Regions from separate parts of the Homo sapiens genome. Here all the other regions are linked to region 2. Evidence: fine-mapped expression QTL. A gene starts in region 2. Each other region holds a variant in brackets. All regions are shown on one strand. Distances are from middle to middle.

Region 1 (5,073 bases), 32 kb before region 2:
CAAATGACGTGGAGATGAGGGGACCAACCCCACTCCAGATGACTGGGCATTACCTAATGAAGGACAAACACCAGAAGGCAACATTGCCCAGCTGCCGGGAGTCTTGGTCAGCACACAGTCTGGCCAAGGACCCTGCACAGGACTCCACATGCCATTCTATCCATCCCTTCATCAGAAAGCCTGGGTTTGACACTTGTAAGACATTGGTACAGTAGATGAAAATGCCAAAGCTATCTTTATTGAATCAGCACTCCTCTTAATACTCTTGCTATTCTCCAAGGATTTCCTTATTCAGCTGGTATCAAACTTAAAGTGTGTGTGATGGAACTCAAACATAATTAAATTATTCCTAAAATAAACCCAGCTGAGATGGAATTTTAAATATCCACAAACACGAACATGCTGTAACTTAGGGCATAACAGGCTAAATGTGCCTTTGGCCTGACTCTACAGCCCTGGAGCTAGTATGGTTTTCACCTGGCTAAAGGGCTGTAGAAGAAGGGAGGGAGAGACAGCAGGACAATGCAGCCCCTGCGGCCACGTACAGACAGAGCATGCAGCCCCTGCGGCCATGTACAGACAGAGCATGCAGCCCCTGCTTTACAGCATTTAACTTGTCACTGGGACTTTAACCTGCACTCACATGGCACTTTAACTTGTAATTGTGTTTTTTCCCATCTGTGGTTACCATTTTAGGTGTTGAAGGTAAAGTCAACACTGAAAGTGTCCTACAGGCGTCCCGTGTAGAGACATGGGCTCGTCCTACGGGCGTCCTGTGTAGAGACATGGACTCTTGCACAGGATGGCCACACCTCAGGCATGTCACAGGAAAAGCAGCAGCACATACAGGCAGGTGTCACACGTAAGGCTGCACAGGAGGCACGGGGTCTGGAGTAACTGCTTCTGAGACAGAGCATTCTCTGCACACAGAAAGTCAGCTCTGATGGAGAAAGGTAGCCAGCAGCCTGGAGATCATGGGGTGTACACTGGTGCCCACTAACAGGTGGCAAATACACAGTGACCATGCCAGACCCTCCCACAGCCACATCTATCACAACCCTGAACCGCACTGCACGGGGATGTCTGTTTGCTGACTCTGCTGTGTGTGCAACAACGTGTGCAGACTGTGTGTGTGTTTACAAGAACTATCACGTTCTGAGTCTTTAGGCATATAAAACAATGTTACCTTGGACTGTTGCTACTTAAACACTGATTTAAAAATAGAAAAAGAAAAACTTCCCATGATCAACTAAATGTACTCTTGAGGCTTTTATGAAAGGTGGTATTAGGAAGTATCAGCTTTCCTTTTTATATAATGTGACTCCATTAACAAAATCCATCTTTTCTTCCACTTACGTAATGAATGTTGTACCTAACATACCAGCATTAGAGTCATTAGTAGTTTTGTTTTTTAACATCCCGAGAGGGGTAAACACCTTAAACTTGTCAATTACTGCACATTTAGCATGAATTCACATATCAAACTCGCTCACAGGAAAGACTACTTAAAACTAGTGCTTCCGAAAAGGGCGTGCTGACAGAAGAACGTGGAGCAGAAAGACACGTGGTGGAGAAAAAGTCAGTGTTAAAGAGAAGCCATGAGACGGAGGCTGACATGGCCAAGACGGCACCGCGGACAAGAAGGCAGCAGGATGGCCTCCCGGCAGATGGGAAGGGGCAGTGCGGGCGAGAGGGAAGCAGGACGGTCTCCCAGGAGAGACGGGAAAAGGCACCGCGGCGGGAGGCAGAGCCTGAGTGACAGACAGGAAGGGGCACTGCAGGCGAGAGGGCAACAAGACAGCCTCCCAACAGACAGGAAAGGGCACTGCAGGCGAGTGGGCAGCCGGAAGGCCTCCCGACAGAGACGGGAAAAGGCACCACGGCTGGAGGCAGAGCCTGAGTGACAGAGACAGGAAGGGGCACCACAGGCGAGAGGGCAGCAGGACAGCCTCCCGACAGACGGGAAAGGGCACTGCAGGCGAGAGGGCAGCAGGACAGCCTCCCGACAGAGACGGGAAAAGGCACCACGGCTGGAGGCAGAGCCTGAGTGAGAAACGCACCCGGTAGACCTTGGTGAACAATTTTCTTCAGAACATAATTTGAAGCTGTCTGTTTTTTGAAATAGGGTCTCGCTCTGTCACTCAGGCTGGAATGCCGTAGTGTGATCATGGCTCACTGCACTCTCCACCTCCTGGGGCTCAAGTGATCCTCCTGCCTCAGCCTTCTATGTAGTTCTGACCATATACGTGCACCACCACACCCAGCTAACTTTTAAATTTTTTTGTAGAGACGGAGTCCCACTTTGTTGCCCAGGCTGGTCTCAAACTCTTAAGCTCAGGCCTCCCAAAGTGCTGGGGTCACAAGCATGAGCCACTGCTTCCAGCTGAAGTTGTTTAAAAAACATATACCCAGCTAGCTGGGAGGCTGAGGCAGGAAGATCACTTGAGCCTAGGAGTCTGAGGCCAGGGAGGGCAACATAGTGAGGCCCCGTCTGAAAAAAAAAAATTTAAAAGAAAATGTGTTTTTCGGCCAGGCGCGGTGGCTCACACCTGTAGTCCCAGCACTTTGGGAGGCTGAAGCAGGCAGATCATGAGGTCAGGAGATCGAGACCATCCTGGTAACATGGTGAAACCCCGTCTCTACTAAAAATACAAAAAATTAGCCGGGCGTGGTGGAGGGCGCCTGTAGTCCCAGCTACTCGGGAGGCTGAGGCAGGAGAATAGTGTGAACCTGGGAGGCAGAGTTTGCAGTGAGCCAAGATAGTGCCACTGCACTCCAGCCTGGGCAACAGAGCGAGACTCCGTCTCAAGAAAAAAAAAAAAAGAAAATGTGTTGTTTTGTGTTTTCACAGCAATCTGACTGTGTGCACGTGAGGATACTTAAGAGAACACTGACCTGCTGGCCCACGTCGACCTTCGTGAAACTAAAGGTGCTAAGGTGGGTGTTTGCTCCCCGCACGGCTGGTTCTATAGTTTCTCGAAACAACTTCTCTATAAATTGGCAAATGAAAGGCCACATGTGTTTTACAGTCTGGAAAGGAAAAAGAACTCAGTTTAAACAAAATGCTATATAATGCATGACACACACGAGTGCTCGTGAGAAACCCTCGCAACAGACCAAACCTGGTTTTGAAAATAAAGGGCGGGAGGATCTTGTTGTTATGCAAAATCAAC[A/G]TGATCTAAATTCTAAAAAGTTATTAGAAAAACCAACTACTGATTAACCAATATGTTGCAGGAACTAGTTATTCTGGTTAAATATGTCAGCACATTTAAAGATTTCTAGAAGTCCTGTGGTTTCAACTTGGTGCTGAAAACAACATTAATATTTATATAGTTCTTCAATTGTAATCCCAGCATTTGGGAGGCTGAAGCGGGTGGATCATCTGAGGTCGGGAGTTTGAGACCAGCCTGACCAACATGGAGAAACTCCATCTCTACTAAAAATACAAAATTAGCCAGGCGTGGTGGTGCGTGCCTGTAATCCCAGCTACTCGGGAGGCTGAGGCAGGAGAATCACTTGAACCCAAGAGGTGGAGGTTGTGGTGAACCGAGATCATGCCATTGCACTCCAGCCTGGGCAACAAGAGTGAAGCTCCGTCTCAAAAAAAAAAAAAAAAAAAAAAAAAAAAGACTGTTATTGATTATTGAATTTCTTGTAAGTTATTTCTTTCTTTGTCATGTTTTTTAAAACTTATGATTGTTATAAAATAGACTTGAGCCCTGGCTGTTCAGAAAAGAAGACACATGGCCAGAGACACAAATATGCACATGCCTATACTTTTCTCAAGTCAAAGAGACAGTTCTCACTCTCTGGAAAGAAAAGAAATGCATTTGTTGTGACTGAGGTCTTTGGGGACCAGAAGCCAACCCACTAAAGTCCAAACGAGCTCAAATATTACCAACATGCAAATCCCCAAATATGGAAAGATGGTATCTCATCCTCCAATTCCACTGATGGATGGTAGTTGGTATACTCTAATCTTACCTTATTTAGCCATTCTGCTCTTTCAGTGTCTGGAAAATGAACCTAGGAGGAAAATACACACATATGACTTATTAACTCCCAACAACTGTAAATAAAATGTCAAGCAGGCAATTTCATATTCTCATCATACGTCCTATGTTTACAAGATGCTTCTTTAAAACACTCTGCTCTAAAGCTTGGGAAACTGGTCTCCAAGGAGGGAAAGTGAAATGCATGGCACCCCAGCTCTTTACGTTCTGAGAACACAATGAGCAAAAAAGTTGTGTGTGGAAAATGCCATCAGAGTCTTCTCTGCACCCCACTGTCCAGAGGAAATTCACTGGAATCTGAAACATCATAAATTATACAAAACTGACCTCTACCTTTTTAAAAAAACATGTTTCTAATTTGTCAGTAGTATTATCATCATGTCCTGGCAATCTAGGCTCAGAGCCCCTACCCTTCCCAGGCCAGCCGTGGTGGCCCAAACCTGCAAGTCCCAGGTACTCAGGAGGCTGAGGTAGGAGGATCCCTTGAGCCCAGGAGCTTGTCTGCAATGTGCTACAACCATGCCTGTGATTAGTGCTGCACCCTAGTCTGGACAACATAATGAGACTCCATAAAATAAAGTAACAAAATATAAACTAAAATAAAATTCACTCTTCCCTTTTGCTTTTCTCTTTTGGCCCAAACCAGCTAAGAGACACCTTTCCTTACATGGCTCCTCTCCATACCATCATCTCCCACCTTCACCCAGATAGGGATCCCTCTTACAATTCTCCAGGTAGGGCCTGGATACTGGAGAAGGGTTTGTACAGGAGAAAAGAAACCTATTTAGGGCCAGGCATGGTGGCTCATGCCTGTAACCCCAACACTTTGGGAGGCTGAGGATTACTTAAAGCCAGCAGTTCAAGACCAGCCTGGCCAACATATTCTTGCAAACCTCTTTTCTATGCGTTTATAAGCATGTATAACTTACATTAGACATGTTTCTATACACATTTGCATATGCGTATGATATTTTTAAGACTATGTGGCCTCTTAATTTTTTTTTTTTTTTGAGACAGAGTCTCACTGTCACCAGGCTGGAGTGCAGTGGCGCGATCTCGG
Region 2 (5,073 bases):
TGAGACCAGCCTGGCCAACATGGTGAAACCCTGTTTCTACTAAAAATACAAAGATTAGCTGGGCGTGATGGTGCACGCCTGTAATCCCAGCTACTCGGGAGGCTGAGGCAGGAGAATCTTTTGAACCCTGGAGGCGGAGGTTGTAGTGAGCCGAGATCACGCCATTGCACTCCAGCCTGGGCAACAGGGAGAGGCTCTGTCTCAAAAAAAAAAAAAAAAGAAAAGAAAAAGAAAATCTGTGTTTCACAAAGATTTTTAACAAGCAAATTTGATATTAGCCAATAACCAAGTATCTATGAAAGTCAGCATCATCACTTCCTGCAAATTTCAGCACTGATAACATTGCTATGTTATCAATATAACATAGCAATGGATGCTAATGGACTCTGTTTTTAGCTACTTTTTAGTATTATGCATCTTAGTGTAATATAGACACAAAACGTCACTTTAAAGTCCTTTTCCATTTCCAAAGTGCACCTCCTCTGTTCTTAGTTTTCCCCACCTCGGTTCCTCTTAACTTCCTTTTTCTACACACCCCTCGGTTTTTCCCGCCGCTAGCTAAAAGCTGCACCATGCCAGTTACCTTGGTTCTCCAAATATGACTCCCTCATGCTCACCACGCATCGGCAGAACTGTACATTCCCAAGCTCCTTACATTATATTCTTACTCCAGTTGCAATATGACGTCACAAAGTAGCATCTACTACCTTCTTCTTGTCTTGGGCACGCCTCCTTTCTAATTCTTGTTTGCCATCTGTGTCATGCCTTACTTCTCAGGTGTCTCATGACTGGAAACAGGGACTTTTCTCCTCTAAGAGAAAATGACCCTTCCGAAACCCACTGCTGGTCACCTTCACCCCAAAGTTTATATTAAGCCTAATGGAAGAATCATTAAAATCCTTTCTTGCAGTGTGAAACTGTGAAGCCAAGTCATGGCTAAGAAAGAATTAGGGAATGACAAGAAAAAGATTTGAAGCCAACTCTTCGTGTCTATAGTCCATAAATATACGAGGTAGAGAACTGCCGGGTTAAAAATAAAATAATACCATGACTCTTGTTATTGCTGCAACTCTTCCAAAACTTCCTGCCACACACACACACATTCACACTGGATTCAGGTCGATCCCATATAAAAATGCTCAGTCTCACAATTATACTTGCAAAAAAACTGAAACAATCTTTCAATTATCTAATATCTCCACATCTTTCGAGAGACACTTACTGCCCTTGAAATGCGTCAGAAACAACCAAGACACGAGTGCGTCTTCTCCCGGTAGAAGAAAAAGTTAACTTCTCCCCCACCAGCTGTCATTACGTTTTTTAAAAAACAGAGAGAAGGAAAAGCTGAAGCCACCCGGAGCATTTCCAGGCCGGCAGGGCTTTGGGAATGCGCACGAGAATCGCGCTGGGCGCTCTGAGAGCAGAACCGGCCGCTCAGGCCCCTAAGGAGACCCCGCGGGCGGCACCAGGAGGAAGCGCGCGCTCCGGGCAGGGCCGCGGCCGAAGAGGGGGCGCCAAGCCCGGTACCTGCCGCTGGCGCTCGGGGTCTGCAGGCCGGGGGAGGGAAGCGGGCTTTGTGAAGAGGGGTCTCCGAGAAAGCCGCGCGGGACGGCGAGGGGAGGCTTCACGAGGGCAGACGCGCCCCGGACCCGGAGCCTGGGCGGGCGGGGAAGCGGAGAAGGGGACGCCCGACTTGGACGGAGGGAGGGCACGGAGCACTCAGGACTAGGGCGGGAGCGGCGAGCAGCGGGCGGCGGCCCCAGGCGGACAGGTTCGCAGGGAGTGGGCCGGAGGCCGGGGCGGGGCTGGGGTCTGCACTCGCCCTAGCGGGCAGGTCGCCAGCAGGCTGGGAGTCGGGGCCGGGGGGCGGGGCGGGGTCTGCACTCACCTAGGTTGGCAGGTCGCAGGAACCGGCCCGGGGGCCGGGGCTGGGGTCTGCACTCGCCCAGGCGGAAGGGAAGCGCCTGCCTGGACCGGGGTGGGTGGGGGACTACGAAGGCGGGAGCCGGGGCAGGGCTGGGGTCTGCACTCACCCAGGCGGCAGGTCGCGGGGAGGGGAGTGCCTGCCTGGACGAGGGGAGATCGGGACTGGTGGTCAGGGGTCGGGACGGGCAGGGGTCTGCACTCACCCAGGCGGGCAGGTCGCAGGCGCGCACCCCCAGGCGCACGACGCGCTCCTCGTCTTCCAGCAGCGCCAGCGCGCGGCACAGGCGCAGGGCCTTGAGGCCGCGGCTGCGGCGACACCAGGCGAGCAGCGCGAGCGCGAGGAGAACCCAGCTGAAGCTGAGCCCCAGGTAGCCCAGCGCGTACACGGGCAGCAGCAGCGCGAAGCTCCGCGCCAGCTGCGCCAGCAGCCCGGGCAGCTCCACGCTCAGCACGCCCCCGGGGTTCTCAGGCGCCGCGCGGCCCCCAGCCCCGCCGGCGCCCGCCTCCGGGCCCTCGCCCCGGGCGCCGCTCATCGCCCCGCAGTGCCGCGCTGCCCTCCCGGCCGAGGCGGGCTGGGTGCTCGCGCTGATCCCGGGCGGCTCAGCCCCGCGCCAGCGCCCCTCTGAGGGGACGCGGCTCCGCCGCACGCCCGCCTCCGCCCGGGACGGTGGCGTCATCACGCGGGGCGGGAGCGGCGTGGGCCTGGGGCTGGCACGTCACCGGGAGCGGGCGGGGTGGATACTGACGTCATCGCGCGGGGCGGGCCGTGGGCCGGGTCGGAGACTACTGGAGTGGGCCGGGCAGGCGCACGACGTCATCACGCGAGCGTTGTGTCTCGGCTGGCGGGAGCCGGGGACGGGAAAGGAGAGTGCTCGGTGCGTGGGCTGGGCGTGCCTGCGTCCCCTCGAGCCCCACGGGGCACCCTCCCCACTTGCCTGTGGCCTCGGAGCCCGCGGGCGGTTTTGGCTCGGCGTCGCGCCCCGAGGCGGCTTCCGGGTGCGTGGCTGCGCTCGCCGAGGCCCGGGAAGTTGCCGTCGTCAAACCCAAAGGCTGACCGCCTCTGGGAGCTGCTGGCAAACGTGGGGGTGCGCGGCCGCTGAGCGCAGCCGGGGTGGCGGTGGGATGAGAGGGCGGCGTCCCTGTTTGCGGTCATTTTGCGGCCAGGAGGACGGGTGAGAGGGCGCCGCCCGCCGGAGGTCGGACGGGCGCCGCTGGCGGGAGTCCTCCGGTATTTTTCGGTGTGAGGTTGCCTAGCCAGTGTGCAAGGTTGTGGCTTTTGCGGAGTCTCTCGGGACGGTCTTGTTATCGGGCATTCCGGCGTGAGAACGCTGCCTCTGGGGCCCTTCCCACCCTGCTTGTCAGGGTTTTAAACACAAACGACTCCGTTGTGACCTTGACAACTCTCACACAGTTCAGTTGGCTTTTAAGATGCCTTTAATCCCAAAAGTCCTCCCTGAGGGGTCTGGTAGTGCCGGGCAAAGACCACCGCAAGCGCCCAAGGGACGCTGTTGACACTCGGGAACTCCACCCCGGGCACCACGCAGCTTCGCCGAAGGTGTTAATATTGTGGCCAACTATGAATAGCTGTTTCAAACGACTAATTTTGGGCCTTTCCTGTGATTCCTGAGGTCACTTTTCAGTTAACTCAAAAACACAACTATTGATCACTTTACTTTCCAGTGAATTCAATCGAGTTAATTATATTTGTTCTGTAGTTTCTTTCAAGGAAACTCCAAGCCAAACAGTAGCAAAGAACATCCTACTTGACTGTTTTTGAGCATATTCAGTGAATTCCAAGGAAATTTTTACTGAATTTGTAACAGAGTAGGGCACTGGCAGGTACTGAATGAATAAACAAATGCCCAGAAGAAGCAGGGTCACCTTTACATAGGAATCTGTCTCCCCTCGTTCCTGCGTCTTCATAATTTTGTGTGCATATGTATGTGGAGATTATATCACATATGTAAAACATTGCAGAGTCTAAACTCTCAACTCCAGGCAAGGGCAGTAAACCCCAAGCAAGGAATGGAAGTGGTTTCCCTTTTCTTACTCTTCACAGTCCCTGGTTTGCTGCAGCAACAAATTATATTATGTAGATTGTAAATATGCAACCGGTTAATGCTCCTAACACCACCTTTCATTCAAAACTAAGCCTCAACACAAAAGCAAGTAATTGCTTTGTTGACACAGAAAGGAGCCTGAGCCTTTCTTTTGCAGCTTTCCTCTACTGGAAAATTGTAGGATCACATCCTACAAAGACTTGCATAAACATAAGCCACGTAAAAAATTCTGTAATCCCAGCACTTTGGGAGGCCGAGGAGGGCAGATCACGAGGTCAGGAGATCAAGACCATCCTGGCCAACATGGTGAAACCCCGTCTCTACTAAAAATAACAAAAAATTAGCCGCGCATGGCGGCGCGCACCTGGAGTCCCAGCTACTCGGGAGGCTGAGGCAGGAGAATTACTTGAACCCGGGAGGCGGAGGTTGCAGTGAGTCGAGATCGCACCACTGCACTCCAGCCTGGGCGACAGAGCAAGACTACGTCTCAAGAAAAAAAAAAAAATCCTGTGCCATGTGCCATCCAGTGGTTGACCCAAGGATGTAAACTAGATTGAAGAGAAGTTTCCATGTTGCATACCAGTCAGCCCAAGTGTCCTCAGCTTCCCTCTGTGTGAGCCCCGGGTTTCCAGCCCCTCCCTGTGGTTAATTGCCTGCAGAAAGCAGATCCTAAGGCTCTGCCACAGCTCAGTCTTACAGGTGTCTGGTCTGACTGCAGGTCCAGCTCGGCTCTTAGATTTTTGCTAATATTATACCCCTCAATCTCCTGTGACCTTTCATGACCCCTCCATCCTTTCCTTCTTGTAGACAAGGAGAAGTGCTGCTTTCTCTGGAGTGTCATTCCGAGTGCTCCGGTGCACAGCTGCGAAGTTCCAGCCTTCCTGGTTTCAGAGGAAAGTGCTATCTTGTGCTTAGGTTCAACTCTTCCTGCTTTTGGGTCCTCCCCCACACCTCTAAATACGTCTCGTTATGGAGGGTGGGAGCACGTGCTCTGCATCTCTTCAATTTGGAGGTTATACCAGCAAATTAAATATACTGGGGACAGTGAAAGCCAGGTTTCTTGCTGTTGGAGAAGGTAAAAACATGG
Region 3 (5,073 bases), 190 kb before region 2:
CAATAAATTTAACATACTTGACATTTAAATGCACCAGTGCATGGGCAAATGCATGTTGTTTCTCCTCAGAAAATGTCCAGTTTACAATATGCTATATCGGATGAGGCAATTAAAATGCAATGAGATGCCGATTTTTATTTAGCACCCAAAAGACAGACCAGTCAACAGAATACTAGCCCTGAAAACTAGATTAGTTGTTAAGAAAACGTGCACTTTTAAATCAAGCTCCACTGCCTAAAATATTAATTGGAGCAAGGGGTTCCCAGATTCTTAAAGATGTTTACTTGCTTTAATGTCTCTAGTCCAACGTTAAATCAATAATATTTTAAAATACAGTCTTAAATCTTAATTGTTTATCTTCCGTTAGATTGATTTTTCTTGTTTCATCAATTTGTCAGATTGATTTTTTTAGACACTGGTTTTTCTATAGTTTGCTTCTTGCATATTTAAGTAAGAAGCCAATATTTCACAGTCCTGACCTATTTATTTTCTAGGATGTTTCCTTCTTAAAGGGAGGAGCTCTTTTTTTCATCTGTGTATCATCTTAGTAGAGGGGATGGCATGCAGGTGAATAATGGAGAAACAAAACGCTCCATCCCCAGTGTTCTGTTCATGTCCTTTTCCACATTGTAAGTTCTGAATTTCTCAGGTCTTTTCTTCTCTCAATGTAACTAACATAATTCAAGTAGTTAGCCTGAAACTAAGTATAAGTGGAAATGGAAGGCATTCCTAGTGAGAAACCAATGTTCCTCTTCCCTTTCATCTTCAGAATAGTATACACTATTCTATATCCAAATAAGCCTTCCTTGGCAACATTATTTCTTTTTTTCTTTTTTTTTTTTTTTTGAGATGGAGTTTCACTCTTAATGCCCAGGCTGGAGTGCAATGGCTCGATCTGGGCTCACCGCAACCTCTGCCTTCCGGGTTCAAGTGATTCTCCTGCCTCAGCCTCCCAAGTAGCTGAGATTACAGGCATGTGCCACCATACCCAGCTAATTTTTGTACTTTTAGTAGAGACGGGGTTTCTCCATGTTGGTCAGGCTGGACTTGAACTCCCGACCTCAGGTGATCTGCCTGCCTCAGCCTCCCAAAGTGCTGGGATTACAGGCATAAGCCACTGTGCCCGGCCAACATTATTTCTAATAAAGAAAAATGCTTAGACTTTTGAGGTTGTTACTACATCCTGTGAAAACAATTTAACATTCTTACAGTTGGTAATTCTGGTCATCTTGTTTAATATTTGTGCCTGATGGACCATTTACATCATTGCCACTTATTTTCTGAAATGGACAAGTGCTCCTCTGTCATCCCCAAATCAGACCACTGCCCTAAAAACAAGCTCCTAAGGCCAATAGTCTATTGGGTTTCCTCTTCTTCTTCTTCTTTTTTTTTTGAGACGGAGCCCTGCTCTGTCACCCAGGCTGGAATGCAGTGGTGTGATCTTGGCTCACTGCAAGTTCCGCCTCCCGGGTTCATGCCATTCTCCTGCCTCAGCCTCCCGAGCAGCTGGGACTACAGGCGCCCGCCACCATGCCCGGCTAATTTTTTATATTTTTAGTAGAGACGGGGTTTCACCGTGTTAGCCAGGATGGTCTCGATCTCCTGACCTCGTGATCCACCTGCCTTGGCCTCCCAAAGTGCTGAGAGGGTTTCTTCTTAAAATATAAAGTTGCAAAGTCTAACCTGATTAAAACTAGCATAGTGGACACTCAATCATTTTTAGAATAAAGTACATAATTGAATGCATTTCATTCACTCAGTCGCTAGGAGCCCAAACCCACCCACCTGCTTTAGTGCCCAGTTCAACGTCCCATCACCGTGGGGTGCTGGAAGGTCACTGGGGAAGGAGGGGACTTTCTCCAGGTTTCCGTAAGGCCCCCCTTTCTCCAGCAGACTCTGACAGCACAAGCAGCACACCAGACAACTACCCCACAAGCCCCCACCCCATCCGAGCCACACACAGGAGCCTGTGGGACTCAAGAGAGTAGGCTTTCCAGCTCCGGCTCCAGCAGCTCCCCAGCACCTCCCCTGCGATGGCTCCACATCCCCCCGGCCCACCACCCACCCAGGTGAGTGGACGTCCTCAGGTCCCACAGAAGGCCGCTAACAATTTCTTCCACGTAGGAAGCCAGGTCTCCCTGTCCGGGTGGGGGCTCCTTCCTTGGCGGCGCTCACCTAGGGTTGGAGGTGTTCTCTTCATCTGCTAGTCCTGTATTCTCTAGAGTTCTCTTTAACTCTCACTAGCCAATAACCCATCGTGCCAACTCCCTATAAAAATCCCTGACACTTGGCTGGGCACGGTGGCTCACCCCTGTAATCCCAGCACTTTGGGAGGCCGAGGCGGGCGGATCACTTGAGGCCAGGAGTTCAAGACCAGCCTGGCCAACATGGTGAAACTCCGTCTCTACTAAAAATACAAAAATTAGCCGGGCATGGTGG[C/T]GCATGCCTGTAATCCCAGCTACTCGGGAGGCTGATGCACAAGAATTACTTGAACCTGGGAGGCAAAGGTTGCAGTGAGCCAAGATCGCACCACTGCACTACAGCCTGCATAACAGAGGGAGACTCTTGTCTCAAAAACAAACAAAAAAATCCCTGACACTGAGCTTTCCCTATCCGAATCACTGCGTGGTTTTGGTCTTCTCCTGGAACCTGACAAACACACAGAAAAACATTGTTTTTTGTTTGTTTGCTTTTGAGACAAGTCTTGCTCTGTTGCCAAGACTGGAGTGCGGTGGCGCAATCTCAACCCACTGCAACCTCCACCTCAAGCAATCCTCCCACCTCAGCTGTCCATGTAGCTGGGACTATAGGCACATGCTACCACACCTGTCTAATATTTGTATTTTTTGTAGAGATGAGGTCTCGCTGTGTTGCTCAAACTGGTCTTGAACCCCTGAGCTCAAGCAATCCACCCACCTTAGCCTCCCATAGTGTTGGGATTACAGACGCGAGCCACCATGCCCAGCCAACATTGTTATCTCAGTACCTGACAAAGTGGAGTAAAGAGAGACCCTTTATTAAAATAAAAGGGTCAATTAATCAAGAACATACAGCAGTTCTAAACTTATATGCACCTAATAACAGGGCCATAAAATATATAATGCAAAAGCAGTCCTAAATATGATACTTGGACAAATTCACAAGCATAATGAGAAATTTAACACAAGTCTCTGTAGAATAAGTAACAAAAAATCAGTAAAAACATAGAAAAGTTGAGGTAACACAATTAACGAACGTGAACTGATCAGGTGGCACTCCACCTCTCTAAAACACACACTCCTATGCACAAGCACTCACAAATGCTGTGTGTGAGCCACAGAGCCAGTCTCAGACGTACAATCAAAAAAGACAAAAAAGAAATGGTGTTAAAAGCCACAGTAAACATAAACCTCATATCAAGTATAAAACCACACACACTTTGCTCTTCATCCGGACAATGCCCAAAATTATACTGAGGTATTGGGGTGGGCTGATACCTTCAAACAGGGAGAGAGGGACCATGTTCAGGAGGTGTATTCCTCGATTTAGGTGGTGACTGAATTTTTTTTTTTTTAAGACAGGGTCTCACTCTGTCACCCAGGCTGGAATGCAGTGACGTGATCTCGGCTCACTGCAGCATCAACCTCCTGGGCTCAAGTGATCCTCCCACCTCAGCCTCTTGGGTAGCTGGGACCACAGGTGAGTGCCACAATATCCAACTAATTTCTATATTTTTTGTAGAGACAGGGTTTTGCCACATTGCCCAGGCTGGTTGCGAACTCCTAGACTCAAGCAATTCACCTGCCTTGGCCTCCCAAAGTGCTGGGATTACAGCTGTAAGCCACCGCACCTGGCTTGTGAGTGCATTTTATAACAATTAATTCAGTGGTACACATATTATTTACATTCTTTTCCATATGTATATCTCAATGAGTAAATTCTATTCTATTAAAATCAATAAACAAAAACCACAAGCCATTTTGTTAATAAATTTAAAAATCTAGACCAATGCAAGAAATTGTAAATTACCAAAATTTATTCAGGCAGTAATAGGAAATCAGACCCAACTACTAACATAGAAGAAACAGGGAAAAGTCATCCCAGATTTCTGGGGGTATGTTGTTCCACAGCATCAGATGTGATTTAAACTGCTCCACAACACTGAAAAGGGAGAAGTTACCAACTAATGCTGAGAGCAAAACTGGTAGAGGTCCTACTGAAAAAACAAAAACAAAACACTACAAAACAAAACAACCAACAACCATTTAATCTTATTTCAAACCTAATGCAAACATTCTCAAATAAAATATTAGCAAACAGAATTCAAAAATGCAGCTGTTTTGATAGAATGAAATATCCAAGACCTGTGAGACAACTGTAAAAGGTGTTAACATGTATAATAAGAATTTCAGAAGAGAGAAAGGAACAGAAGAAATATTCAGACAATAATAACTGAGAATTTATCCAGGAAGCTCATAGAATACTGAATAGAATAAATGCCAAAAAAAAAAAAAAAAAAGAAAAGAAAACTACACCTAGGCATATCATATTCAACCTACAGAAAAATCAAACAAAGAAAAAGTATTGAAAGAAACCAGATAGGGAAAAATACACCTTATCTACTGAGGAGCAAAAAAGAATTATATCCTATTTCTCAGATACTACACGAGCCAAGAAGAGAGTATAGCGAAATGTTTAAAGTACAGAGAGTGGCCGGGCACGGGGAGTAATCCCAGCAATTTGAGAAGCTGAGGCGAGTAGATCACTTGAGATCAAGAATTCGAGACCAGCCTGGGCAACATGGTGAAGCCCTGTCTCCACTAATACAAAAATGAGCTGGGTGTGGCGGCGATGTGCCTGTATACCAGCTACTCAGCAGGCTGAGGTACAAGAATCGTTTGAACTTAGGAGGCAGAGGTTGCAGTGAACTGAGATCACACCACTGCGTTCCACCCTAGGCAACAGAGCAAGACTCTGTCTCAAAAAATAATAATAATAAATTAAATAAAGTACAGAGAGAAAAAAATTCATCAACTAGAATTATAAACTACATAACATTATCCCTGCAAAGAAATAAAGTAGAAGTAAAAGACT
Region 4 (5,062 bases), 92 kb before region 2:
ACCACTTCTTCTCATCTCTCTAATCTTCTGTCTTCATCTAGGAATATGGACTCTCCCTTTTCTGAAGGCTCTTACTTTTTCAATCTTTTCTACCCCCCTGAGCACCTGTAAGCTACATCGCTGAATACATCTAAGAAATCCTTCATGCAACCAGCAGTCTTAAAATTCAGCTATGACGGAATATCAGCGGAGATGACTCACAGAAGGGTTGGCCCATGTGCCCTCCATGGCAGCACAGCTGACGAAATGATGCCCGTGACTCAAATCTCTTCCTCCCCAACTGAACCTACTCTCATTCCTAAATAACATACACTCACATGCCAAAGTGAAATGTGAAATACGGACAAAGAGTAGAAGAAATTCACATAAATAAAGCCAAAGAATTTTAGAAAAAGAGCAGAGCCATCAGTTGAGGAGATGGAATTGTAAGAGATTATTTTCCTTCAATGTGATACTTGAACAAAAATGTGAAGACTTAACTTAAAATATCTTCAGAAAGCACAGATGTTTTGACTGTCTTTATAGCCCATGATTTATAAACAAGCATCGACCTCGTAAGTTCGCCCCTTCCACTTACACAGACATGGTCTAAACACTGCACTGCAGGTAAATGTTCAATTTTACAAACTGCAGGAACTGGTTGAGGATTCGTTTGGCACTTACTTTGCCAAGGAGCCCTTTGTCTTTGGACAGGAAGCCGCCACTGTTCTTCACGGCAACGTCGAGCGTTCTCCTCTGCACTTCTGGTAACGAAACACTGAAATCAAAGCTGAAATAGGAAACGAGAGCCTTACTTTATCCATCATTCTGCTGTATTTTCTTATAACTAAAAATGGCATTTCTGCTCATGAGATCATTCCAAATGTCATGTTTGTTTTTTATTATAAAACTGAGTTCTTCTACCTAATGTTTTAATCTGGCATTTCAGGAAGACTCAAAAACCAACATTTTTTTCATTTCCCACACATAAAAGAAGGCTCTGGCATCCCATAGATGTCTGGGTCCCAAGGTCCCTGGCTCACTCACGGGTGGGTGAGGAGCGTCTCTCAACATGTCTGACTCTTCCAGGGGATTAAAATGTGGGATAATGTTGACAAAACAGCAATTCCAGAGCAGCCCACTCACTCAGGCTTTCCACTCAGTCTGGTTTAGTCTTCAGGCCCTATTCCCACCATCTCCAATAAAAAAAAGTATGTGCTTGCAGCTTCGCAGGAGGGAGAAGGCCTCCAAAGCACTCCCGATGCTCAGCCAGACGCTGCACTAAAGTGCCTGCAGGGCGTCTCTCCTCCGGGCTGCGGGTGCCTGCCCCAGGCCACCGTGCTGGGGGGCAAGTGGAGTCTCCAGACGCTTAAATGCCTCGGATGGGTAGGAGCACCCTGCACAACCTCATCGGGCTGATGCACGCCTGCCAGTTTCTGATGGGTGTTTTACATAAAGCTACTTGTATGAAAGTACAATGAATGAGGAGGATGTTTAAAGATGAAACGTAAACTGAATTAGCAGATAGCGACACCATACAACTGTATTATTATCATTTCCCAAAACAAGGGTGGGTTTTGAAGCACTAGGGGACAATCACCTAAGATACCAAAATGGTACAGATTAGCAGCTCTTTAAAAGTGGGGGCCAATGACCCCTGGGGGTGTCTCTGAGACCCTCCTAGGAGGTCACCAAATCACCCTGACCACAGAAGCAGGCTCCAGCCCCTCTTGAGCCAGACCACTAAAGAGATGAGCAAAAATGCTGAACAATAATACCATTCTTTTCATTATGTTTTTTATTTTTGGAAATACAGTTGTTTTTCCAATATGTCATACGGTAAGATGTTTGGGGCTTACTGTTATTTAAAAATAAAATTAAAAATATATGTATCCTTAAATTCTCAGTTTTAATTGATAACATAGTTAAGTGTCAACAGATATAACCCCCAAAAATGAGTTCTTCAGGGCCATCAGTAACCTGATCTTTATTTAATCACTAGTCTACATGTCCACAGGGTTGTAACTTGAATTTACTGTATTTAGAGCTTCTACATGAAGGTCAAAATGCTTATTTGTTTTGAGAAGTATGTTTGCTAAAAGTTGGTTTCTGATTGAACTTCTCAACAGCTGATTTATGTGCTTTGGCCACTCAAAGGCACCATTTAGGGCCTTCTTAATCCGTCACTTCAACCGGGCAGTCTATCCTCAGCTGGATAAAATACCGTACCTTTGATCAAACACTGGATTTAATGTTTTCTTTGACACGTGTGTTTTCCTCCTTCCTGACCGCCTCTTGTCTGGTAATAAATACATGCGGACATAGGGGTCAGAGCCGTCTTCAGAGAAGGCAATGAGGTTTCTTACAACACAAACCAGATAAGACGAGGTATTAGGACCGAGAAAAAGAGAATGAGCAGCACATTCAGATATGCTTTATCAAGCTTTGATTTCATGTTTATCTACAAACCGAGAAGCAACAAGGAACAGAATGCGTGAGGCGCTTTTGCCTCCCCCGACGGCTGCCTGGTGGCATCTCCCAAACTCCTTTCTTAGTGGCTTTCTCAGCAGCGACTTCGGCCTTCATTTCTCAAGCCCAGAGTTTGGAGGACGTTCCAAGTCCTTGGTCTCTGCTTGTAACAGAGTGACGGTTGTCTTTCCATAATGCTTCTGCCATTTTCTCTCTCACAGCCAAGAAAGCCAGGCCCCCACCCCACAGTGCCTACCCCTCCAGA[A/C]GGGGGCTGCTCCTTTGCAGCAAACGCGGTCAGGTGCCCAGCTGCACAGGCCCCCACATTCTTCGCTTGCTGACTGACCACAAAGTCTAGGAGGGATTGTTTTGCTAGACTCCTCTACAACAGTATCCCCCACGATCATTATCTAAGTGGCAAGAATATATGAACTTCTCAAGAGTGATGTACTGAACTCTACATTTTTATCATCTTTCTAAATGGTGCTAATTTTATTTTCCTATGTTTCCAACAGCTATTTATAAGCACCAAATTTTTATATCATATTTTAAACCACTAATAGGACAGAGAAAATTGCATAAAAGGAAAATAGTTCGTAAGCCCACAGTATCATTGTTAACAAATGCAATTAATGCAACAGTCACCTGACTTTATACTTATTAATATAACAAACAAGTTAAAATAAATTCTTCCTGATTAGGCCAGTCATGGTGGCTCAAGTCTATAATCCCAGTGCTTTGGGAGGCCAGGAATTAGAGACCAGCGTCTCCATAAAAAAATTAAAAATTAGCCAGGCCTGGTGGCTTCCACCTATAGTCCCAGCTACTCAGGAGGCCTGGCCAACATGGTGAAACCCCGTGTCTACTAAAAATACAAGTTAGTCGGACGAGGTAGTGCACGCCTGTAATCCCACCTACTCGGGTGGCTGAGGCAGGAGAATTGCTTGAACCCAAGAAGCGGAAGTTGCAGTAAGATGAGATTGTGCCACTGCACTCCAGCCTGGGGGACAAAGTAAAACTCTGTCTCCAAAAAAAAAAAAAAATACACACACACACACAGACACACACACACACACACACACACACACACACACTCTTCCTGCTCTAGGCTACACATTTGTACAGTATGCTACTGTGCTGAATACTGTAGGCAATTGTGACATATTTGTGTATTTTTTTTTCTTTTTGAGACAAAGTTTCGCTCTTGTTGCCCAGGCTGGAGTGCAATGGCACGATCTTGGCTCACAGCAACCTCTGCCTCCTGGGTTCAAGTGATTCTCCTGCATCAGCCTCCCTAGTAGCTGGGATTACAGGCATGCACCACCACACGTGGCTAGTTTGTATTTTTAGTAGAGACAGGGTTTCTCCATTTTGGTCAGGCTGGTCTCGAACTCCAGACCTCAGGTGATCTGCCCACCTCAGCCTCCCAAAGTGCTGGGATTACAGGCGTGAGCCACCATGCCAAGCCATATTTGTGTATTTAAACACATAAAAGGTACAGTAAAAATACAGTATGATCTTAGGGGACCGTTGTACTTCGGTGACCAAAACGTTGTCATGTGACATACGCAGTGGTGACACCCTTTACGAGCACCGTCTCTAGAGGTTTAATTGCTTTGTCCTTTCTAAATGAAACATAAATGGATGTTTGGAAATCCTAAAGGCGGTGTCTACATCATCCTATCCAGCATCCACACTCAGCAGCACAGCAGCGGGCGCGTGGGACCCCAGCCCCCACCTGCAGGCATGCACGACCACGATAAGCTTGTTTCTCTGCGAGCTGTGCCGGATGGTCAGCTGGATCTGCCCCAGTGGAGACTGTCCCAGGGTCGTCCCGCTGTGGGAAAAGAGCAGAAAGTCACCAGCTTGCCTGAGACTGGAGAACGTTGTGATTCATTGGTCCACTGTACACGATAAAATAATTTCTATTCATTTAGACAAAAAGAAGTCAAATTACCCATGAACTTAAACATAATTTGAAACTTCTGGGTACAAGTCAAACAGATGAATATTTTACTTGAGGGTTCAATATAAATTAATTATTCAAAACTGACATTATTTCTTTTGTTTTTGTTTTTTGAGACGGAGTTTCACTCTTGTTGCCTAGGCTGGAGTGCAATGGCGCAATCTTGGCTCACTGTAACCTCCGCCTCCTGGGTTCAAGCGATTCTCCTGCCTCAGCCTCCTGAGTAGCTGGGATTACAGGCGCCCGCCACCACGCCCAGCTAATTTTTTGTATTTTTAGTAGAGATGGGGTTTCACCATGTTGGCCAGGCTGGTCTCAAATTCCTGACCTCAGGTGATCCACCTGCCTCGGCCTCCCAAAGTGCTGGGATTACAGGCGTGAGCCATCGCGTCCAGCCAACTGACAGTTTTTTAGTTAGGGTCCTGAAAACTAAAAGTAAAATCCTAAGCCCCCACCCCACTCCCATGTGAGTGGACCCAGGGGACCCCAGAGAAACTTAAACACTGAGTTCCTGACCACAACAGGACGGGAGGTTATTTATACCCCCCCCTTCGCAGTTCAGATGCAACAACCGACTGGCATTAATGCTGCAGCAGAGATCGTTAAGACTGAAGGAACAGATTCCTTGCGGCAGTAAGATACCAAGCTACA
Region 5 (5,073 bases), 82 kb before region 2:
GTAGCAAAAACAGAGGCTGAGGAAAAAAACATAAATTCAGAGATTTAAACGCCATGCTCTTCATACCTGATATAAGTAGTCTGAGAACTAGTAAGGCCCCAGAGGGCCTGAGCAATGGCAATGCCACCAACCACCCTGACCTACTGACATTCATGAGACACTCGCCAACACCAGAAAGGCACACAGCCTACAGGTGCACGTGGAGTGTGTCCCAGGACAGGCAGTGCTCTGGGCCATAAAGCCGGTCTCAAACATAAAAGGGCTCATGTCATACAAAGTATGTACTCTGACCACTATGGAATGAAATTGGAATCAATAATAGAAAGATTAAAAAAAAATCCCCAAACATATGGAAACTAAATAACAGACCAAAATAACCCATACACAGGTCAAAGGAAAAAACTGAAAGGGAAATTAAGGAAATAATAATAATCAAAAGGAGACATCAACGACAAGTCAAAATTTGTGAGATGTAGCTACAGAATTTAAAGTGAAATTTATTGGAGTAAATGCCTACATTATAAAAACAGAAATGTCTCAAGCTTCTTCTTTAAGAAACTAGAAAAAGAGAAGCAAAGACCCAAAGTAAGTGGGACTGAAATAATAATGATCATAGTAGAAATCAATGAAATAGTAAAAGAAAAGCAATAATGACAATTAAACAAAAAATTGGTTAAGAAAATAAAATCAATAAACATCTTGTAAGACTTATTAGGAAGAAGAAGAGAGAAGACAGGCCAGGCATGATGGCTCACGTCTGTAATCCCAGCACTTTGAGAGGCCAAGGTGGATAGATGGCTTGAGCTCAGGAGTTCGAGACCAGCCTGGGCAATGTGGTGAAACCGCATCTTTACATACATAAATAGACACACACACACACACACACACACACGCCCCTCCAACACACAAAAATTAGCTGGGTATGGTGGCATGCACATGTAGTCCCAGCCACTTGGGAGGCTGAGGCACACATACACACATACCCAAAACACAAAAATTAGCTGGGTGTGGTGGTGTGCACCTCTAGTCCCAGCCACTTGGGAGGCTGAGGCGGGAGGATTGCTTGAGCCTAAGAGGTCAAGGCTGCAGTGAGCCATGACTGCACCACTGCACTCCAGCCTGAGTGACAAAGTGAGACCCTGCCTCAAGAAAAAAAAAAAAAAAGATTAATAAAGCACCAATAATAAAGACAGTGTGATACTGGCATAAAGACAGACATATAGAACAATGGAACAGAAGGAATTCCAGAAACAGACCTATACATATGGGCAACTGAATTTCTGGAAAGTTGCTAAGCTAATAAATTAGGGCAAATAATAATCTTTTCAACAAAGACTGAACAACTGCACAAATGCTGAACAACTACACAGCCATATTAAGAAAAAGAGGCTGGGCACCGTGGCTCACAACTGCAATCCCAGCACTTGGGGAAGCAGAAGTGGGAACATCGCTGCTCGAGCCCAGGAGTCTGCGACCAGTCTGGGCAACACTGTGAGACCCTACAAAAAATAAAATAATTCTCTACAAAAAATAAAAAAATTAGCCAGGCATGGTGGTGTCTGCCTGTAGTCCCAGCTACTCCGGAGGCTGAGGCAAGAGAATCACTTGAACCCAGGAGTTGGAGGCTGCAGTGATCTGTGATTACACCACTGCACTCCAGCCTGGGTAACAGAGTGAAACTCTGTTCTCAAAAACAAAGAGGCGGGGTGCGTTGGCTCACGCCTGTAATCCCAGCACGTTGGGAGGCCACAGTGGGCGGATCAGCTGAGGTCAGGAGTTCAAGGCCAAGCCTGGCCAACATGGTGAAACCCCGTCTCCACTAAAAATACAAGAAATCAGCCAGGTGTGGTGGCGCGCACCTGTAATCCCAGCTCTCAGGAGGCTGAGGCAAGAGAATCACTTGAACCCAGGAGGTGGAGGCTGCAGTGACTGAGATCGCACCACTGCACTCCAGCCTCCATGACAGAGTGAGACTTCATCTCA[G/A]AAAGAATGAAACATTAAAAAAAAAACCCCAAACGTCTTACAAACTCAGTATTAAGAAGACAAATAACCAAATAAAAAAGACAGGCAAAAAAACTGAATAGACATTTCACCATAGAAGATACAAAGACCGTAAAAAAGCATAAAAAGGTGCTCAACGTCATTAGTAATGACGCTGAAACCACCCGGTAATACTCCTATCTACCCACTAACACCACAGCACTGGCGAGATGTGGGGCCCGCTCGACTCACATGCACTTCGGTGGGAATGTGACACGGCACAATCTCTTTGGAAAACAATTTGGCAGTTTATTAAGAAGCTAAACATGAACCTGGCAACCTGCTCCTGGGCATTTTACCCAACAGAATGAAGGCATATGTACACACAGTCTTGTATGTGATATTCACAGCAGATTTATATGTAATAGGTCTAAACCGGAAAGAACCCAATCTTTTATCAATGTCTTACTCACAGGTAAATGGATGAGCAAATTGTGGTATATCCATAACTACTACTCAACAATAAAAAAAGACAAACTGTGGGTATCTGCAACAACACAGGTAAACCTCAGAATAATTATCACCAGAGAATATAGACAACTAGAGGACATACCGCATAATTCTATTTGTATAAAATCCTGGAAAATGTGAACAGTAATCTACAGTGACCAAAGGCAGGTCTGTGTTTGCCTGGGGCTAGGGGAGGCCCGGGTTACAGAGAGATCTACCAATTGTCCTGATTCTGGCGATGGATCCCCAGGTGTATACACGGGTCACAACTCAGCAAATTGTATACTTTAAAAAGTCAATTATTTGTCAATAAATTGGTTAAAAAATGCAAATAAAATACCTCAACTTCAAGGTCCTGGCGCTTGGGATTGTGAATGAAGAAAGTGAAGTTTTCCTCCCACACAGGTTCATTGGTTTTGTATCGAATCTAGAAGAAATATCCAAATTATTAGCTCTGATATTTTCTGTGGAAAAGGGCTACTCATTTTATGTGTTTAGAAGCTTAGAATGAAAAATAAAAAGAAAATAAATAAAACAAAAAACTAGAAGCTTAGGTTGACCTTAATTAAATTCCAAGACATGTATTTGCAGGTATGCACTATTATGTATTGATGGTGGATGTGTTGAAAAGATAACGAGACGGTCTAAAGCCTTTAGAGTTTGTCATGAGGCCCCAACCTGTGCGCCCACAGATAAAGGCTTCGTGTGCGTGGCCTGGCCTCGGTTCTGTAATGACTTTTGCACCAACGTAATAGCTCCTCCGAACTGAGGAGGGTGAGCACTTGGGCACGTCTCTTAAACTGTTCACAATTCAGTGAGTGATGACCTGTAACTTCGGGCAATTTCTTTCTTTTTTTTTTTATTTTTTATTTTTTTTTGGTAGGGGGGACAGAGTCTTGCTCTGTCGCCAGGCTGGAGTGCAGTGGCGCAATCTCAGCTCACTGCAACCTCCACCTTCCGGGTTCAAGCAATTCCCCTGCTGCAGCCTCCCAAGTAGCTGGGATTACAGGCACGTGCCACCATGCCCAGCTAATTTTTTTTCTCCTGTAAGGAAAGTAGAACATATTACAGCAATATGTAATAGCCATACCCTCTTTTCAAGTCGTAATTCTAACTGTATTGGTTGAATTTTAAGCACTGTTGGTTTTCTTTTAAACTATTTATAGAGTGCTCAAGACAAACTTAGGAATTGTTCCCATGTGTCTACTCATAAAATCAAGCAAAAACATATTCATCTATTACTTTCTAATGTTATTTTTGTTTTGTTTTTTGAGACAGAGTCTTGCTCTGTCACCCAGGCTGAAGTGCAGTAGTGCAATCTCGGCTCACTGCAACCTCTGCCTCCCGGGTTCAAGCGATTCTCCTGCCTCAGCCTCCCGAGTAGCTGGGATTACAGGCACCCGGCACCGCACCCGGCACCATGCCCGACTAAGTTTTGTATTTTTAGTAGAGATGAGGTTTCACCGTATTGGCCAGGCTGGTCTCGAACTCCTGACCTCAAGGGATCTCCCTGCCTCGGCCTCCCAAATTGTGGGGATTACAGGTAGGAGCCACCACACCTAGCCACTGAAGTCATTTTAAAAAATGAACAGTATATTTCTTGGTATTTCAAGTAGCTGGTTATCTATATCAAATGACTGATCTAAGAAAAAATAGATCTGAAAAGCCCTGGTCTCGATGCCCACGCTATCACACAACTGAATGTATTTGCAACCCGGCATCCCCAGGTGAGACGGCAACACGGACAGCGCCCGCACGACAGGCACCAAGGCTGAGTCCAGGGCGAGCACCTTACCTTGCTCTCCTGGGCCTTGTGCCCAACTGACATCTGGACAACAGGATTTGGGTTGCTGCTTATTTTCTTCCCTGACTACCCAAAACAAACAGAAAACAGACAAAATAAATAAACACATTTTAAATGGGTCTTAACTAAAAATGAAATTACTGGCTTATATTAGTAGTCATTTTTATTTATCTCTGATATTTAAGGGAATATCTGGGAACAATTTAATGGGAAAACATAAGCTACACACACCCCAAACCATAACTACAAAACTTTCATTTGCACACAAATTTTAAAGGTTAGAGTCTGGTATTTTTAAAGCCAACTACTTTGGAAAACTGAATCTTCTAAAAATTCTTAATGTTAATCACACTTTTCGAAAGTTCTTTTATTTACAAGGATAACGAAAATGAATAAAGTGCAATTAATGAAAACCAAAAATCATTAAAAGACAAATGTAAAAGAACGTAAAATTCAGAATATTTCTCTGGCGGGAATAAAAATAGTACAGAGTGTCAGATACACGGTTTTATGTTCTCAACTTAGCGTCTTCTGTTTGAGCATTTTTAAGCTTTCACATATCAAATCTTGCTTACCAGCTGCTAAATAATTTTGACTGGAAGAATAATCATCAGTTTAGAATCATATTAAATTAAGCAGATATAAATATGAAGAAAAAATTCAGGACTAGGAAAAACGGTAAGAAGTACACACTAGCACAGATAGTTGATAGGAGAAAATAGTAAAGCAGCAGATACGTGTGACATGAGGTTTATTTATAACTTAGCCCCACAAGAAGA
Region 6 (5,073 bases), 100 kb before region 2:
TCCTGTGTGTGGCCTTCACTCTGCTGTTTCTTTGCATGCCTCATCCTTTTTTCATTGAATCTGGACATTTAAGATAATATACTCCAGCCTGGCCAACATGGTGAAACCCCGTCTCTACTAAAAATACAAAAATTAGCCGGGCATGGTGGTGGGCGCCTGTAGTCCCAGCTACTCGGGAGGCTGAGGTAGAAGAATTGCTTGAACCCAGGAGGTGGAGGTTGTGGTGAGCCAAGATGGCACCACTGCACTCCAGCCTGGCAACAGTGCAAGACTCATCTAAAAAAAAAATAAAAAAAAATAAAGATAATATAGTGTGGCAACTCTGTAGACAAGATCCCTCTTCCACTCCTGGCTTTGTTGTTGATGATGGTTGTCACTGTTGTTTCTTTGTGTTTAGTAACATACTTGGACTCTCTAGAAGCTGTGTTGTCACATGCTGCCTCTGAAGCCTCTGCTGGGTTAGCTCACGTGCCAGCTAAGGATTGGAAAGGACTTCTTTGAATACTTCAGACCAGTTGGTCTCCCACCTGCTGCCAAGGGGCCCTGTGCATGTGCTGGGTGCCTTCAGTCTTCCAGCAGGCACCTCACAGCCAGAAATGAGAACTCTTGCAGGTCTTTCCTGGGGATGTGCACAGCCCGGCATGTGCATGTGTCTAGCACCCCAGCAATGCCAGAGTTTTACAAAGCCCTCTGTGGACAGTCTCATCCCCTAGGTTCTCCTTTCAAAGTGTTTGGTTGGCCTCTTGTTTGTCCCAACTGCTACCACTGCCTCAGGCAGCTGCAATGTTAAACAACCGCCACCGATTCTTCTGGACCAACAAACCTGGAGATGGAGTTTTCCTGGGAGCCTGAGAGTTGAAATAGTGACAATTCCCTGGGGATGGAACTTTTGGAGAGCAATAAGCTCCTTCTTTCCCCTCCAGAGGCAGCAAGGCTGCTGGTCATCTGTGCTGTTGCACTTCTAAGGCTGCTGCTGTATGACTTTTTCCATATTTTCCAATAGCTATTGGCATTACCATATACGACACAGACATTTCTACATCCAAATATTTTCCAGATTTTTTTTTTTTTTTTGGTGATGGAGTCTCACTCTGTCGCCCAGGCTGGAGTGCAGTGGCATGATCTCGTCTCACTGCAGTCTCTGCCTCCCCCAGTTCAAGTGATTCTCCTGCCTCAGCCTTCTGAGTAGCTGGGATTACAGGTGCGCACCACTATGCCCAGCTAATTTTTTGTATTTTTAGTGGAGATGGGGTTTCACCATGATGGCCAAGGTGGTTTCAAACTGCTGACCTTAAGTGATCCACCTGCCTTGGCCTCCCAAAGTACTAGGATTACAGGTGTGAGCCACCACGCCCGGCCTCCAGATTTTTATTTATTTATTTATTTTTGAGACCGAGTCTCGCTCTGTCGCCCAAGCTGGAGTGCAGTGGCGCGATCTTGGCTCACTGCAAGCTCCGCCTCCTGGGTTCAAGTGATTCTCCTGTCTCGCCCTCCCGAGTAGCTGGGACTACAGGCGTGTGCCCCCACACCTGGCCGATTTTTTTTATTTTTAGTAGAGACGGGGTTTCACCACGTTAGCCAGGATGGTCTCAATCTCCTGACCTCGTGATCTGCCCACCTCGGCCTCCCAAAGTGTTGGGATTACAGGTGTGAGCCACCACGCCCGGCCCAGATATTTTTTTTGAGACAGGGTCTTACTCTGTCGCCCACACTGAAGTGCAGTGGCACAATCATAGCTCACTGCAGCCTCCTAACCTCCTGGGCTCAAGAGATCCTCCCACCTCAGCCTCCCAAGTAGCTAGAACTGTAAGTGTGCACCCACCATGCCCAGCTAGTTTTTTTATTTTTATAGAGATGAGGTCTCACTCTGTTGCCCAGGCTGGTTTCAAACTCCTGGGCTCCACTGATCCTCCTGCTTCGGCCACCCAAAGCGTTGGGCTTACAGGTGTGAGCTGCCATGCCTGGCCTCCCGAAGCGTTGGGCTTACAGGTGTGAGCCACCGTGCCTGGCCTTCTTTGCAGAGTATTATTATTGGGATTTCCAGGTAGGCAATCTTGTATCTGAAAATGACTATCTCTTTGTAAAAATTTCCAGATAATCTTTTTTCTTTGTATTATATTGCCCAGGAAGTTGAGAATAACAGTAAATAGTTAAAGGCAGACTTCCTGGGTGTTTCCAACTTTCATGTCTCAACTGTTTCTCAGATGAGGAGGCCCTTGGCTTTTTCTCTCAATAGTATCCATCACGCTTAGCAGTATCTTCTCCTTAGTCGTCACTAACAACCGTTAGTAGGTATATATCTTTTTTTGAATGGAAACTTGTTAGACGAGATGAATTATATTTTGGTCTGCCAAACGTATTTATTTCTTGAGACAGGGTCTTGCTGTCTCACCCAGCCTGGAGTGCGGCAACGCAATCATGGCTCACTGCATCCTCGACGTCCTGGCTCCAGTGATCCTTCTTCTGCTCAGCCTCCCGAGTGGCTGGGACCATAGGCATGCGCCACCACGCCTGGCTAATTTTTGTATTTTTGGTAGAGACAGTGTTTTGCCATGTTGCCCAGGCTGCTCTTGAACTCCTGAGCTCAAGTGAACCACCTGCTTTGGCCTCCCAAAGTGCTGGGATTACAGGTGTGAGCCGTCTGCCAAACTTTATACATTTATTCAACAGATAATTGGTTTACCATGTGTCTGGAACAGTGATAGGCGACCAGTGAGTTTTAAATAAAACTCACATAATCTCTGCCCTTGAAAGTTTACAGTCCATGTAGGAAAGTTTTAAATAAAACTAAATTGTAATTACGTTAAATTTGGTGAATCAAAGTAACACAGGCCGGGATGGTGGCGTAGGCCTGTAATCCCAATACTTTGGGAGGCTGAGGTGGGGGGGATCCCTTGATCCCCCTACTGCACTCCAGCCTGGGCAACAGAGTAAGAACCTGTCTCAAAAAAAAAAAAAAAAAAA[A/AC]ACACATACACACACATGATGCTAAGAAAACTCACAGGACACCGAGATCAGCTTTCAACTGAGAAGTTACGGGGAGTGGATGTGAGCTGGGCCAGTCATGGTAAGAGCCCGCGTGGAGGTGCTGGGGAGAGGAGAGGAGAGGAGCAAGTGTGGAGGTGGGTGGGGCAGGAGCAGGTGTGGATGTGCTGGAGGGGAGGGGCAGACGTGGAGGTGCTGGGGGGAGGAGCAAGCATGGAGGTGGGGAGGTTGGAGCAAGTGTGGAGGTGGGGGGATTGGAGCAAATGTGGATGTGCTGCGGGGGAAGAGCAAGCGTGGAGGTGGGGGGGGAGGAGCAAATGTGGAGGTGCTGGGGGGAGGAGCAGGTGTGGAGATAGTGGGGGAAGAGCAAGCGTGGAGGTGTTGGGAGAAGCAAGTGTGGATGTGCAAGCGTGGAGGTGGGGGGCTTGGCGCAAGCGTGGAGGTGCTGGGGGGAGGAGCAAGGTGGAGGTTGGGACTGGAGCAAATGTGGAGGTGCTGGGGGGAGGAGCAGGTGTGGAGATAGTGGGGGAGGAGCAAGCGTGGAGGTGCTGGGGGGAGGAGCAGGTGTGGAGATAGTGGGGGAGGAGCAAGCGTGGAGGCGGGAGGGTTGGAGCAGGTGTGGAGGTGCTGTGGAAGAGGGGCAAGTGAGGATGTGCTGGCGGGGAGGAGCAAGTGTGGAGGTGGGGGCGTTGGAGCAGGTATGGAGGTGCTGGGGAGAGGGGCAAGTGTGGAGGTGCTGGGGGGGAGGAGCAAGTGTGGAGGTGCTGGGGGGGGAGGAGCAAGTGTGGAGGTGCTGGGGGGGAGGAGCAAGTGTGGAGGTGCTCGGGGGAGCAGTGTGGAGATGTTGGGGAGTTCCGAGCAGGTGTGGAGGTGCTTGCGGGGAGGAGCATGCCTGGGGGTGTTGAGTGGGAATGTGTAGGGGCCGTCTGTGGAACTGAGAGGCATTGATTGAGGTACAGTGGGTGAGGGTCCCAGAGGAAGAAGAAACACTCAGCTGCAGAAGTCAGGAAATGCTCTTGCTCTTGAACAGTGGAACACAGCTGAGTGGGAGTGATCTGTGTCTGAAAGATTCTCCTGTTGTATGGAAAATGGAGCAGGCAGGGGAGAAAGATTGAGAAATGGAGAGGGACGGTGGCTTGGACTGAGGGGACAGAGTTGAGGTGGCTACATTCTCCAGTTAGAGCTCAAGGACTTGGTGTCTGCACATGGGCTGAGGCAGTGGGAGGTGGCTGGTGCTGTCCAGGTCTCAGCTCCAGCACCAAGACGGATGATGGACAGACAGATGGACAAAGGGTGTGCCTTGAGGTGTCCATGTGACACAGAGGACGGGGATGCAGTGGGATGAACTGGTCCTGAGCTCAGACAACATCTGTATCAGTGACATACATCTGGAAACCAGGGTATTGATGGTATTAAGAACACCACATAAAAATAAAAAGTGATCAGAACCAAAACCCACATTATGCCAATTATTGAGTCTGGTTGAAGGTGAAGACAGTGTTGGAAAATGGCCAAAAATGTGCAAGGAAAATACAGAGGAAGGCGCTACAGAGGCCAAGAAGGATGGCCCACAGTCAAGGAGAAAGGAAGTGCCCGGTGTCAAAGGCCCACAGTCAAGGAGAAAGGAAGTGCCTGGTGTGAAATGCCGAGCGGCTACGAGGAAAAGCGCAAGGGCTCCACTCAAGTCGATCCAGACCACCAGTAATGAACGCAACAGGAAGGGATACTCCAGTATCACCCTCAGTGTTCCAATGTTCAGGTGTCTCGGCAGTCCCCGCTGCACTTCTCAGAGCCCTAGTTAAAAACACATTTAAAGTTTATTTTTTCTACGTATGATTATCCTTTAGAAGAGCTGTTTTTGACATGTGGAGTGTAATGTGCTGGGCAGAGGAGAGTCAAACTGAGCTGGGAACAACAGGAAGGATGTCAGCTGCTCTGACGTAGCTGCTGGGAAAACGCGAGTGCAGACAGCAAATGAAACAGTGCACGACGTCTCCTTTCAAATTATCTGACTGCACACTGAACACCTCCCTTCAAAAGACAGAGAAAAACAAATCACGACTGAGCTAACATAAAGGTTTTATTGAATAA

What was found. PIP is the estimated chance that this variant, and not a neighbour inherited with it, causes the effect.
Region 1: its variant is the best candidate, but not a certain one, in a credible set for the expression of ESYT2 in whole blood (INTERVAL, PIP 0.86).
Region 3: its variant is the best candidate, but not a certain one, in a credible set for the expression of ESYT2 in whole blood (TOPMed, PIP 0.62).
Region 4: its variant is the best candidate, but not a certain one, in a credible set for the expression of ESYT2 in whole blood (INTERVAL, PIP 0.58).
Region 5: its variant is the best candidate, but not a certain one, in a credible set for the expression of ESYT2 in macrophages (Nedelec 2016, PIP 0.73).
Region 6: its variant is the best candidate, but not a certain one, in a credible set for the expression of ESYT2 in whole blood (INTERVAL, PIP 0.86).

What each region holds. Positions count from the first base shown.
Region 1 is chr7:158,795,047-158,800,119 of GRCh38, forward strand. ESYT2 (extended synaptotagmin 2) reads right to left here. Exons shown (of 23, transcript NM_001367773.1): 2 at 3,985-4,026; 3 at 2,896-3,030. Among named protein-coding and RNA genes, the nearest start is that of ESYT2, 32 kb to the right of the region's middle. RefSeq lists an enhancer at 1,834-2,333. The variant A/G (reference allele first, on the strand shown) is at 3,174.
Region 2 is chr7:158,826,960-158,832,032 of GRCh38, forward strand. ESYT2 (extended synaptotagmin 2) reads right to left here and starts at 2,550. Exons shown (of 23, transcript NM_001367773.1): 1 at 2,130-2,550. The coding sequence starts at 2,459. RefSeq lists enhancers at 1,324-1,393, 3,404-3,513 and silencers at 1,514-1,713, 1,794-1,843, 1,934-2,123, 2,174-2,273, 2,364-3,093.
Region 3 is chr7:158,635,573-158,640,645 of GRCh38, forward strand. The region is part of intron 27 of NCAPG2 (non-SMC condensin II complex subunit G2); the gene reads right to left. Among named protein-coding and RNA genes, the nearest start is that of MIR5707, 46 kb to the left of the region's middle. The variant C/T (reference allele first, on the strand shown) is at 2,440.
Region 4 is chr7:158,734,840-158,739,901 of GRCh38, forward strand. It overlaps ESYT2 (extended synaptotagmin 2), which reads right to left. Exons shown (of 23, transcript NM_001367773.1): 19 at 4,184-4,282; 20 at 2,209-2,340; 21 at 664-769. Among named protein-coding and RNA genes, the nearest start is that of NCAPG2, 33 kb to the left of the region's middle. RefSeq lists an enhancer at 1-207. The variant A/C (reference allele first, on the strand shown) is at 2,714.
Region 5 is chr7:158,745,364-158,750,436 of GRCh38, forward strand. It overlaps ESYT2 (extended synaptotagmin 2), which reads right to left. Exons shown (of 23, transcript NM_001367773.1): 15 at 4,286-4,360; 16 at 2,831-2,917. Among named protein-coding and RNA genes, the nearest start is that of NCAPG2, 43 kb to the left of the region's middle. The variant G/A (reference allele first, on the strand shown) is at 1,984.
Region 6 is chr7:158,725,953-158,731,025 of GRCh38, forward strand. ESYT2 (extended synaptotagmin 2) reads right to left here. Exons shown (of 23, transcript NM_001367773.1): 23 at 5,045-5,073. Among named protein-coding and RNA genes, the nearest start is that of NCAPG2, 24 kb to the left of the region's middle. The variant A/AC (reference allele first, on the strand shown) is at 2,965.